Homo sapiens: one gene and its partners. The protein of the gene in region 1 purifies or fractionates together with the protein of each later gene. This does not show direct contact. Each region holds a gene or a part of one and is shown on either strand. Other genes may lie near its edges. The genes, in order: GAS6, PCDHGC4 and MFSD8.

What was found.
Region 2: the proteins of GAS6 (region 1) and PCDHGC4 purify together in Homo sapiens (co-immunoprecipitation; one large-scale study listed by IntAct). This does not show direct contact.
Region 3: the proteins of GAS6 (region 1) and MFSD8 fractionate together in Homo sapiens (co-fractionation; one large-scale study listed by BioGRID). This does not show direct contact.

Annotation. Positions count from the first base shown.
Region 1 is NC_000013.11:113,829,553-113,833,205, forward strand, and holds part of GAS6 (growth arrest-specific protein 6 precursor), read right to left. Parts: intron 3,201-3,653; coding exon 3,082-3,200; intron 2,937-3,081; coding exon 2,747-2,936; intron 1-2,746. UniProt on the Homo sapiens protein: Ligand for tyrosine-protein kinase receptors AXL, TYRO3 and MER whose signaling is implicated in cell growth and survival, cell adhesion and cell migration.
Region 2 is NC_000005.10:141,508,892-141,511,267, reverse strand, and holds part of PCDHGC4 (protocadherin gamma-C4 isoform 1 precursor), read right to left. Parts: intron 322-2,376; coding exon 95-321; 3' UTR 1-94. Other genes in the region: PCDHGC5 (protocadherin gamma-C5 isoform 1 precursor), read right to left, coding at 95-321; PCDHGC3 (protocadherin gamma-C3 isoform 1 precursor), read right to left, coding at 95-321; PCDHGA12 (protocadherin gamma-A12 isoform 1 precursor), read right to left, coding at 95-321; PCDHGA11 (protocadherin gamma-A11 isoform 1 precursor), read right to left, coding at 95-321; PCDHGB7 (protocadherin gamma-B7 isoform 1 precursor), read right to left, coding at 95-321; PCDHGA10 (protocadherin gamma-A10 isoform 1 precursor), read right to left, coding at 95-321; PCDHGB6 (protocadherin gamma-B6 isoform 1 precursor), read right to left, coding at 95-321; PCDHGA9 (protocadherin gamma-A9 isoform 1 precursor), read right to left, coding at 95-321; PCDHGB5 (protocadherin gamma-B5 isoform 1 precursor), read right to left, coding at 95-321; PCDHGA8 (protocadherin gamma-A8 isoform 1 precursor), read right to left, coding at 95-321; and 11 more. UniProt on the Homo sapiens protein: Potential calcium-dependent cell-adhesion protein. May be involved in the establishment and maintenance of specific neuronal connections in the brain.
Region 3 is NC_000004.12:127,941,059-127,944,711, forward strand, and holds part of MFSD8 (major facilitator superfamily domain-containing protein 8), read right to left. Parts: intron 2,935-3,653; coding exon 2,694-2,934; intron 1,101-2,693; coding exon 987-1,100; coding exon of another isoform or gene 981-986; intron 1-980. UniProt on the Homo sapiens protein: Outward-rectifying chloride channel involved in endolysosomal chloride homeostasis, membrane fusion and function. Conducts chloride currents up to hundreds of picoamperes.

The DNA of each region.
Region 1 (3,653 bases):
TCAGAGAGACCACCTGATCCACACCTGAGCCAAGAGGGTCCCAACCTCAGAGAGACCACCTGATCCTCACCTGAGCCATGAGGGACCTGATCTCAAGGAGACCATCTGATCCTCACCTGGGCCAAGAGGGACCTGACCTCAGGGAGTCCACCTGATCCTCACCTGGGCCAAGAGGGACCTGACCTCAGGGAGTCCACCTGATCCTCACCTGGGCCAAGAGGGTCCCAATCTCAGGGAGGCCACCTGATCCTCACCTGGGCCAAGAGGGACCTGACCTCGGGGAGACCACCTGATCCTCACCTGAGCCAAGAGGGTCCCAATCTCAGGGAGACCCCCTGATCCACACCTGAGCCAAGAAGGTCCCAATCTCAGGGAGACCACCTGATCCTCACCTGAGCCAAGAGGGACCTGACCTCAAGGAGACCACCTGATCCACACCTGAGCCAAGAGGGTCCCAACCTCAGAGAGTCCCTGCTCATCATCTGGGCCAGGAGGGCCCTCGATGCATCAATGTGGTCACCAAAACCTTTCCTCATAGAAAACCTGTAAAGTCTAATGCTAGATACACTATATTCCTGAGCTTCAGAAGAATATCCTTCTTCCTGTGTGAAAACACCTTTCAGGTATTTGGGTTTGAACTGAGTCACAAAAACATGGTACAAATTCGGGTCAGCTGGGTTTGGGCAGCAGCTAGAGAGGGTGGAATTGGGGAGGGGTCCTCATGAGGTACCCCTGCTGGGGAAGGGCCTGTCTTGGTGGGGTGCTGCGGCCGCTGTGAGTCACTGGGCGGGACTACACTGCAACACCGCTCCCCCAGGTGACCTCGCCTCAGGCCACCTGCCCTGGGCCCCTCCTCCCCGTGGCTCCATCCCCTGCAACACCGCTCCCCCAGGCGACCTCGCCTCAGGCCACCTGCCCCGGGCCCCTCCTCCCCGTGGCTCCATCCCCTGCAACACCACTCCCCCAGGTGACCTCGCCTCAGGCCACCTGCCCCGGGCCCCTCCTCCCCGTGGCTCCATCCCCTGCAACACCGCTCCCCCAGGTGACCTCGCCTCAGGCCACCTGCCCCGGGCCCCTCCTCCCCATGGCTCCATCCCCTGCAACACCGCTCCCCCAGGCGACCTCGCCTCAGGCCACCTGCCCCGGGCCCCTCCTCCCCATGGCTCCATCCCCTGCAACACCACTCCCTCCAGGCGACCTCGCCTCAGGCCACCTGCCCCGGGCCCCTCCTCCCCATGGCTCCATCCCCTGCAACACCGCTCCCCCAGGCGACCTCGCCTCAGGCCACCTGCCCTGGGGCCCTCCTCCCCGGGGCTCCATCCCTGAAACTGCTTCTGCTTCCTTTGCTTTCTGTAGCTTTGCTGAGAACAGCCTCCTGCTCTTGGAGATACTGCTCCTTTAAGAGGTTGGGAAAAATGGAGCGAGGCATTGCTTTGCAGGATGGAAATACAAGTCTACAATGTTTCTGAAGGGCAAGACGTGCTTTCCACCTTTCTTCCCAACGTTTCCTTCTGCAAGCCCAGTATGGTGAGGGAGGCCCAGCGCTGTGGGCGGGAGCCTGGTTGCTTACAGGCCCTCTCGCTCCACGGATGGGGATGTGGGGTGGGCACGTTTTACCGCTGCCCACAGCTGCCCAAGTGCAGGTCTGACCAGGACCCCTCAGGTTGCCCATGGGGCTGGGGTCCAGGTGGTCAGGACGTCTCTGGCAAGGGGCAGCTCCCGTGAGGTCACCTGGACCCTTGGCATGCATGGCCGCACTGACCAGCAGGCCCTGGGAGCCAGGGCTCAGGGACCGCAGCGTCCACGCCGTCCTACAGGGAAGGGTGGGCGGGCGGCGCCTGGCCTGGCCACGGCCCGGGAGACACGTACGGCGGGAGCTCTGGGCTGTGGTGCGGGTTCAGTGGCGGCCTCCTCCCCTGGTGGGGCACCCTGCGTGTAGCGTCAAGCAGCCCTGGCTTCTGTTCCCCACTCTGCTCGGGATAAACAGCATGGCCTCCAGACACAGCCCAGGGTCCCCTGGGGCTGAGAACCACGGGTTCTACCTGAGCCAGGGTGACCAAACTCAGGGAGACCAAACTGACAGGTTGCACTCAAGGCCCCTTTCTGAGGGAGCCAGGCTGAAACGTGATGAAATAGCAGAGAGGCCTAGAGCACCACAGTGAGCCCCCAGAGCATGAACTAAACGGGGCAGGGGTCCCCGTCCCCCGGAGCATGAACTAAACGGGGCAGGGGTCCCCGTCCCCCGGAGCATGAACTAAACGGGGCAGGGGTCCCCGTCCCCCGGAGCATGAACTAAACGGGGCAGGGGTCCCCGTCCCCCGGAGCATGAACTAAACGGGGCAGGGGTCCCCGTCCCCCGGAGCATGAACTAAACGGGGCAGGGGTCCCCGTCCCCCGGAGCATGAACTAAACGGGGCAGGGGTCCCCGTCCCCCGGAGCATGAACTAAACGGGGCAGGGGTCCCCGTCCCCCGGAGCATGAACTAAACGGGGCAGGGGTCCCCGTCCCCCGGAGCATGAACTAAACGGGGCAGGGGTCCCCGTCCCCCGGAGCATGAACTAAACGGGGCAGGGGTCCCCGTCTCCCGGAGCATGAACTAAACGGGGCAGGGGTCCCCGTCCTGCCGGCACGCAGCAGATGCAGGCCCCAGAGCTCATCTCCTAACGGTTGCATAAGCGAGTGACAGCTGAGTCTGGCTCAGGGAGAACCCCGTGAGGCCTGGAAGGGGTGGCTGCCGCACACTCACTGTCTGCCACATGCCATGGTTGATGACCGGGCCGCTGCTGGTGACACGGCCGACACCGTTGTAGCGCAGCTGCAGCTCCAGCCGGCCGGCTCTCAGGGCCAGCACGATCCAGGTGCTGTCCTGGTGGCCTCCGGCAAAGAGGAGGATGCCCTCGGGGTCAAAGGTCCGGAAGTCAAACTCAGCTACCAGCCTGGGCACCCACAGGAGAAATGAGTCAGCACTGGGCACAGGCAGATGCCCGGCCCCTCCCTGCTGGCCGAACCCTGGCCCGGGCCCTGTGAAGCCAGTGTCTTGGCCATTCTAAGTTGTGTTGCCTCCTGTGGACACCTCCTCACCTGGTGGGCTGCAGCCTCTTGAAGCGCAGTCGGATCACGGGGGTCCCACTGAACATCCGGCCCAGGTACAAGGACTTCACACTCTTGGCCACGCTGAAGGGCACGCACGGCAAGATGTCCTGCCACGGACGGGGGCCACGCCGGTCGGGGATGTGGCCTTCACTCCTGCTCCCCTGAGCCCCACGCCCCGGCCGCGCAGCGGGTCCACTGTCCCTCCTGTGCCTCGGGAGTGGCCACCCCGCCTCTAGCTGCTGAGACCCCAGAGGCTGTCACACCTGCCCCACTGGGACTCCCAGGTGAAGGGCGGGCTTGCAGCAGCCGCTTCCCACAGGGCTTCTCGGGGGTCCCCGTCATCTCCTTCCCTGCTCATTTCCCTTGACCCTTTATTTTTAAATTATGAAATATTTCAAGCATACAAAAATTACAGAGAATCATTAAAAAGTATACACTATTATGAAATAGATATGGATGCCTTGAAGATGGCTGTCCTGGAAAGTTCCCTGTTCTGGGCTGTGGTTTCTCCACGCTGCCCGAAGGGGGACAGAACCAAAGCCGGTGTGAGCTGACACCCC
Region 2 (2,376 bases), on another chromosome or scaffold:
GTTAGCCCTGAAACTCTGAGGCCTGGGTGCAGGTAAGGAGAAGCTGGGCTGGTTGGGGAGAGGCCGCCCTGTGGCTCTTGGCCTGGCCTCCATGTTACTTCTTCTCCTTCTTGCCCGACTTCTTCTTGTTGCCATTGCCACCTGCTGGGGCCTTGCCATCCCGCTTGCCAGCTGCGTTGGTCAGTGTGGCATTGCTGCCTGGGATGTAGACATTCTGGCGGTAGTCGGGCACGTGCTGCAGGGTGAACTGGGGTCCGTAGCGGGCGCTCAATCCCATGGTGCCGGCACCCCCTCCCAGGGTGGAGCTCCCATCAGCAGCTTCTGCAGAGACAGAGGAAGATCAGGTGGGAGCTAAACTTAGGGTCCTCAACAGTCACTGTCTTATATCCCCAGCAGTTAATGAATGCCTATACAGCACCCTGGGCCTTGACCACGCTGAGCACTGGGAATATAGGGGTCACCAAGGTAGTCTCTCTTCACAAGAGTTGAGGGTAGAGGTTAAGAGGCTCTGGAGTGAGAAAGTCTAGGTTTGATTCCTAGCTCCTTTCCTTACTCACTGTGATCCTGGGCAAGTCTACCTAACCTCCTTATGCCACTTCAGTTTTCTCATCTGCAAAATGGGGATGATAATGGTAACCACCTCTTCTGGTTTTAGTGAATGCTAAATAAGAAAATGTATGTCAGGTACGTAAAATAGTGCCTGGTAGATGTAAGTGCTCAAAACACATTCGCTGGTATTTCTCTCAGGGCTGTGACACGGGCTCTCAGTTCCTTGCCCTGGCTTTCTCAAGGGAGCCTCTGACTCCCACACTAGACCATGGGCTCCTGGAGGGCAGCAGCCATGAAACCATGGCTTTACATGCCCCTAGCCTTTGCCAAGCAAGGCCTGGCACGAGTAGAGATTCGGTAGTTCCGTTAGTAAGTGTGTGGGGTGGGGGTGAAGAGTGCTCTTCCAAGCCTCCATTTCAAAACAGCATTTTTTTTTTTTTTTTTTTAAGATGGAGTCCTGCTCTGTCGCCCAGCCTGGAGTGCAGTGGCGCGATCCCGGCTCACTGCAACCTCTGCCTCCTGGGCTCAAGTGATTCTCCTGCCTCAACCTCCTGAGTAGCTGAGATTACAGGTGCACACCACTAGCCCAGCTAATTTTTGTATTTCAAAACAGCATTTGAGCACCTACTGTGTGCCAGGCACTCTGCTGGATGCTTCACATGCACAATCACTTTTAACCTCTACATAACAGCCCAGCCAGCTATGTGGTATGACCCTCATTTTACAGATGAGGGAACCAAGTGTTAGAAGGACCAAGGCCATACCCGGTAGCATTTGTTAGAGGGGCATTCAGGCCCAAGTGTACCTAAGCGCATGCTGGAAGGGACAGTCAGTCACCATCACCACCAGCAGCTTGGACCTTATCCCTGTTCTGAGTGAATGGGAGGTAGAGAGAAGATGGAGAAGAGCTCGGCTCTATGAAGCTGAGGAGATGATGATCTCGGGGACTAGACATCTCAGGGACACTTTAGGCACAGGCTCAGAGTGCCACAGCTAGGTGACATCAGACAGCACCTCCAGTCCAACGTCCCACTGTACAGAAGAAGAAACTGGGGCCCAGAGAAGTCCACACTCTGGCCCTGGCTCAGCATCACCCAGGAACTTGTTTAGAATGCAGCCTCTCGGAATTGCCAGCTGATTTGTACGCACTGTGAAGGCTGCTGTGAGGACTAAATGAGATGGTGCTTCATCCTGTGCAATACATCATCAACACCGTCACATCCAGCATGCCATCACCTCTACCCCTCACCTGCCCTGACTGGGTCGGGGGTGGGAGAGGAGGAAACAAGAGTTTGACTCATTGGGGCTCGCTGCTGGAGGCCCTGAGATCCTCTGTGGTTAGGAGACAGTTAAAACCTCAGGGATGCCCAGGCCAGCCCAGGCCCAGCTGGCAGTAGAGCTTCTCTCCCAGCCTCCCTCTGCCTCCACCCTGGACCCTGGGAGCGGGTAGCGAGAGTGACTAAAGCCGGAGAGGCTGAGTAATCCTGGGACATCAACCAGGGATTGAGAAATAGAGAGACAGGAAATATTTTCAAGCCGGCATAAGAGGAGGAGGGCACACGGGAGGGGAGAGCCGGGATGCGCCTCGGTTTTTCTCTTCACGCACCAGCGCTCAGGTTTCTACAGCCCCCATTTCATGTCGCAAATCCCCGGAGCTGAGAGCTTTCTGGGGGCGGGGGAGAGGGGTTGAGTGGGAGGGAGCAGCTGCCCACTTCCTCCTCTCCTACCCCAGCTGGCCCCCACCCCCAGCCCTTTCATTCCGCTGACATTTCTCTGTTTTCCCTAATTAACTCCAAAAGGAAGCCAGATCCGCCACCGCCCCGCCCC
Region 3 (3,653 bases), on another chromosome or scaffold:
TACCAGGTATTATGCTAGATACTGAGGGTAGACTGGTAAATAAAGACTCAAACCATGTCCTCATGTACTTTACAATATAGTATTCAAGTTCAATTATTCTACATTTGTGCTTGTATTTGTTTCAGGGTACAAAACTGAAATAGTAGATTTTGGTGAACAGTGAATTAGATTCCCTTCTGTTGAGCCTTTTCTTTTTGGCTAAATAGAGGAACGTAATGGAAACTGGGGGTGGGAGATGGGGTGTTAATGATGAAGTAAGCTGAGTTGGATTCAAACTGATAATATTCATAACTTCAATATTCAAAATATGGACCAATTATATGGTTTTTCAATATTATTCTAGGCATGAAAATGACTGATTCTTTACTCAGCAGAAAATTAATTTGCCTTGAGGAAATACTAAATCTCATTAATTTTTTTTGAGACAGAGTCTCGCGCTTGTTGCCCAAGCTGGAGTGCAATGATGTGATCTCAGCTCACTGCAACCTCTGCCTCCGAGTTCAAGCGATTCCCCTGCCTCAGCCTCCCAAGTAGCTGGGATTACAGGTGCCCGCCACCACACCTGGCTAATTTTTGTATTTTTAGTAGAGATGGGGTTTCACCATGTTGGCCAGGCTGGTCTCAAACTCCTGACCTCAGGTGATCTGCCTTCCACAGACCCCCAAAGTGCTGAGATTACAGGTGTGGACCACCACGCATGGCCTCACTAATTTTTTTAACACTCAGCAAAAGGGTGACCTTGGACAATTTACTTAGATTCTCTATGCACTGGCACTCTCAACTATAAAAGGGGACTAATAGCACTTAATTTAGTGGATTGGCATCAAGATAAAATGAGTGTAGCCTCATTCCTGGATTAAAAAAAAAATTAGCTTTCCTCCCTTTCCCTTCAGCTATGAGTTTTTATACTTGGGTTACACTGAATATTTAAGCCTCAAAAGTTTTCCCAATTCAAATTCAAGTAATGACATGTGAAGAACACCTACCTGGACCTAGAATAAAACCTAATGCTTGACACATGCTTATGTTTGCCATGGAACTTGTTCTTTCCTGAAGGGAAGTAGCACCAGCAGTATATGATCTAACAACTGCTACATTTCCTTAAAAACAAGACACAATAATCCAAAGTAAAAGAAAGTATCATTCAGCTTATAAAATTCAATCCAATTTGACTTTATACAGAAGAAGAAATCTTGGTCAACAGTACAGTCACTGCTTCCTCTTTATGATCACACAAAGCATGTAAGGTATTTTTATTAAGCAAATGCATCAATTAATGGACCATACTAGTTTTGGTAATATGAAAACAGTTAAAGATATCAATGAGTGAAAAAATGGTATCATAAGAAAACCAAGCCGGGCACAGTGGCTCACATCTGTAACCCCAGCACTTTCAGAGGTTGAGGTAGGTGGATCATTTTGAGGTCAGGAGTTCAAGACCAGCCTGGCCAACACGGTGAAACCCCGTCTCTATTAAAAATTCAAAAATTATCCACCTGTAGTCCCAACTACTCAGGAGGCTGAGGCAGAAGAACTGCTTGAACCCAGGATGCTGAGGTTGCAATGAGCCAAGATCACGCCACTGCACTCTAGCCTGGGCAACAGTGAAAAAAAAAAAAAAAGAATATCAAACTTACTTAGTACTAAAAAAGCACTGAGTGAATGGCATACCATTGATTACTACAACTGTTTTTAAAAGAAAAGTATTACAATATTACAAACTCTGTATGCATAGACATGTAATATAAGAAACAGAAAAAAATGCACTAACAATTTTACTGAAAATTTTCATTGAGTACATTACATTCAAGAGACTCTGTTAGGGGGCATAGGATATTTTTAAAGTATCATTAATTCTTTCTAATTGCAAAAAGTTTAGGTTGGGAATGGTGGCTCATGCCTGTAATCCCAGCACTTTGGGAGGCCGAGGCGAGTGGATCACGAGGTCAGGAGTTCAAGACCAGCCTGGCCAAGATGGTGAAACTGCGTCTCTACTAAAAATACAAAAATTAGCCAGGTGCAGTGGCAGACGCCTGTAATCCCAGCTACTCGGGAGGCTGAGGCAGGAGAATTGCTTGAACCCAGGCAGGTAGAGGATGCAGTGAGCCAAGATTGCGCCACTGCATTCCAGTCTGGGTGACAGAGTAAGACTCCGTTTCAAAAAAAAAAAAAAATTATTATCTGGTTAGTGAGAAAGGATAGAAACAGTACAATACTATAAGCAAGTGCCAGAGACATGTCAGAGAAGAAAAAAATCTCTCAAGGGGCAGGGTAGCCCAAGATGGCTTTGTGGAAAATGTGGAGCTTGAATTGGATCTATTTTTGTTTTGGGTTTTTTTTTTTTTAGATGGAGGTCTCCCTATGTTACCCAGGCTGGCCTCGAACTCCTGGGCTCAAGAGATTCTGCTACCTCAGTCTCCTGAGTAGCTGGTATTATAGGCACGTGCCACCACACCTGGTTTAAACTGAATCTTGAAGGATGAAGAATGATGAGAACAGAAGAGAAACTATAGGTAATGAGAACATCATGAGCAAAGGCAAAATGATAAGAAAAATATTTGTTTACAATGAGAAACATGTATGTTGAACTGTGAAATATGAGTTTAAAAGGGGATGAGACCAGTTAAAAGTGAGCCATAAATGTCAGAATGAATGTGAATATGACACAACCAAACATATACATACAACCTTACCTGCTCCAATTCCCAACAATCCACGAGCAACCAGCATGTAGTATTTATTATGAGAAGCTGGGATGTGGAGATATGCATAGAGGCAGTTGGCTGCCACGGAAATCAAGATGGAGACAATAAGAGGCTCTTTTCTTGGTCTATAATTAGACCATAAACCAAATATAGGTGAAGCTACCATTTGGCCAAGACTATATGAAGCAATAACCCAGCCCAAAAAACTTGTATCAGCTGTCGGATCAATCTGCAGAAAAAGGTACAGTGCTTTAAGAATTGTTATCCAAGAAAAGTTTAAAACTAAATACATTTGTCATACCATGTAAGATTTCCTATCAAAAAATAAAAACAATTCTAACGTATAAGTTTTATAACACTATTACTTATAGTAAGGGATTCAAACTTCTGACAATACAATTAAATGTGCTAACAATAGACTGTACACAAGGGAAAAATGCTTGGGAGGCTCATTTTTAAGAATGACTGGAAATTTTTGGTTCATATAAACCTTGGTAAGAAGATAATCACACACACTATATACGCATATAGCAATAACATCATGAAAAATAATATAAGCTATTCTTTAATTCTTGTAAATAGAATTCTTTAGACTTATGCTACCCTATACGTTAAACAGCCATTAGCGCTGTAAATCATTTTTTTTAAAAAAACTAGGCACAAGAGTCAAATGCATAAAGAAGATAATAAAAACACAAAAGATGATAGACAATTATCTCAATAAACCTGTTATAAATTCTTCCGTTCTATATAGACCACTCAGTATTCTACCACTTTAAAAGGGTTTACATATCATGATGAACTTAAGGGGAGAACCAAATGACTACAACTCAGAAAATAAAATACTTTCAGAAAAATAGAAAATGTTAGCTTAGAAAAGGCACTATTGTTTATTTTTATTTTTATTTTTTTTTTGAGACAGGGTCTCACTCTGACATCCAGGCTGGA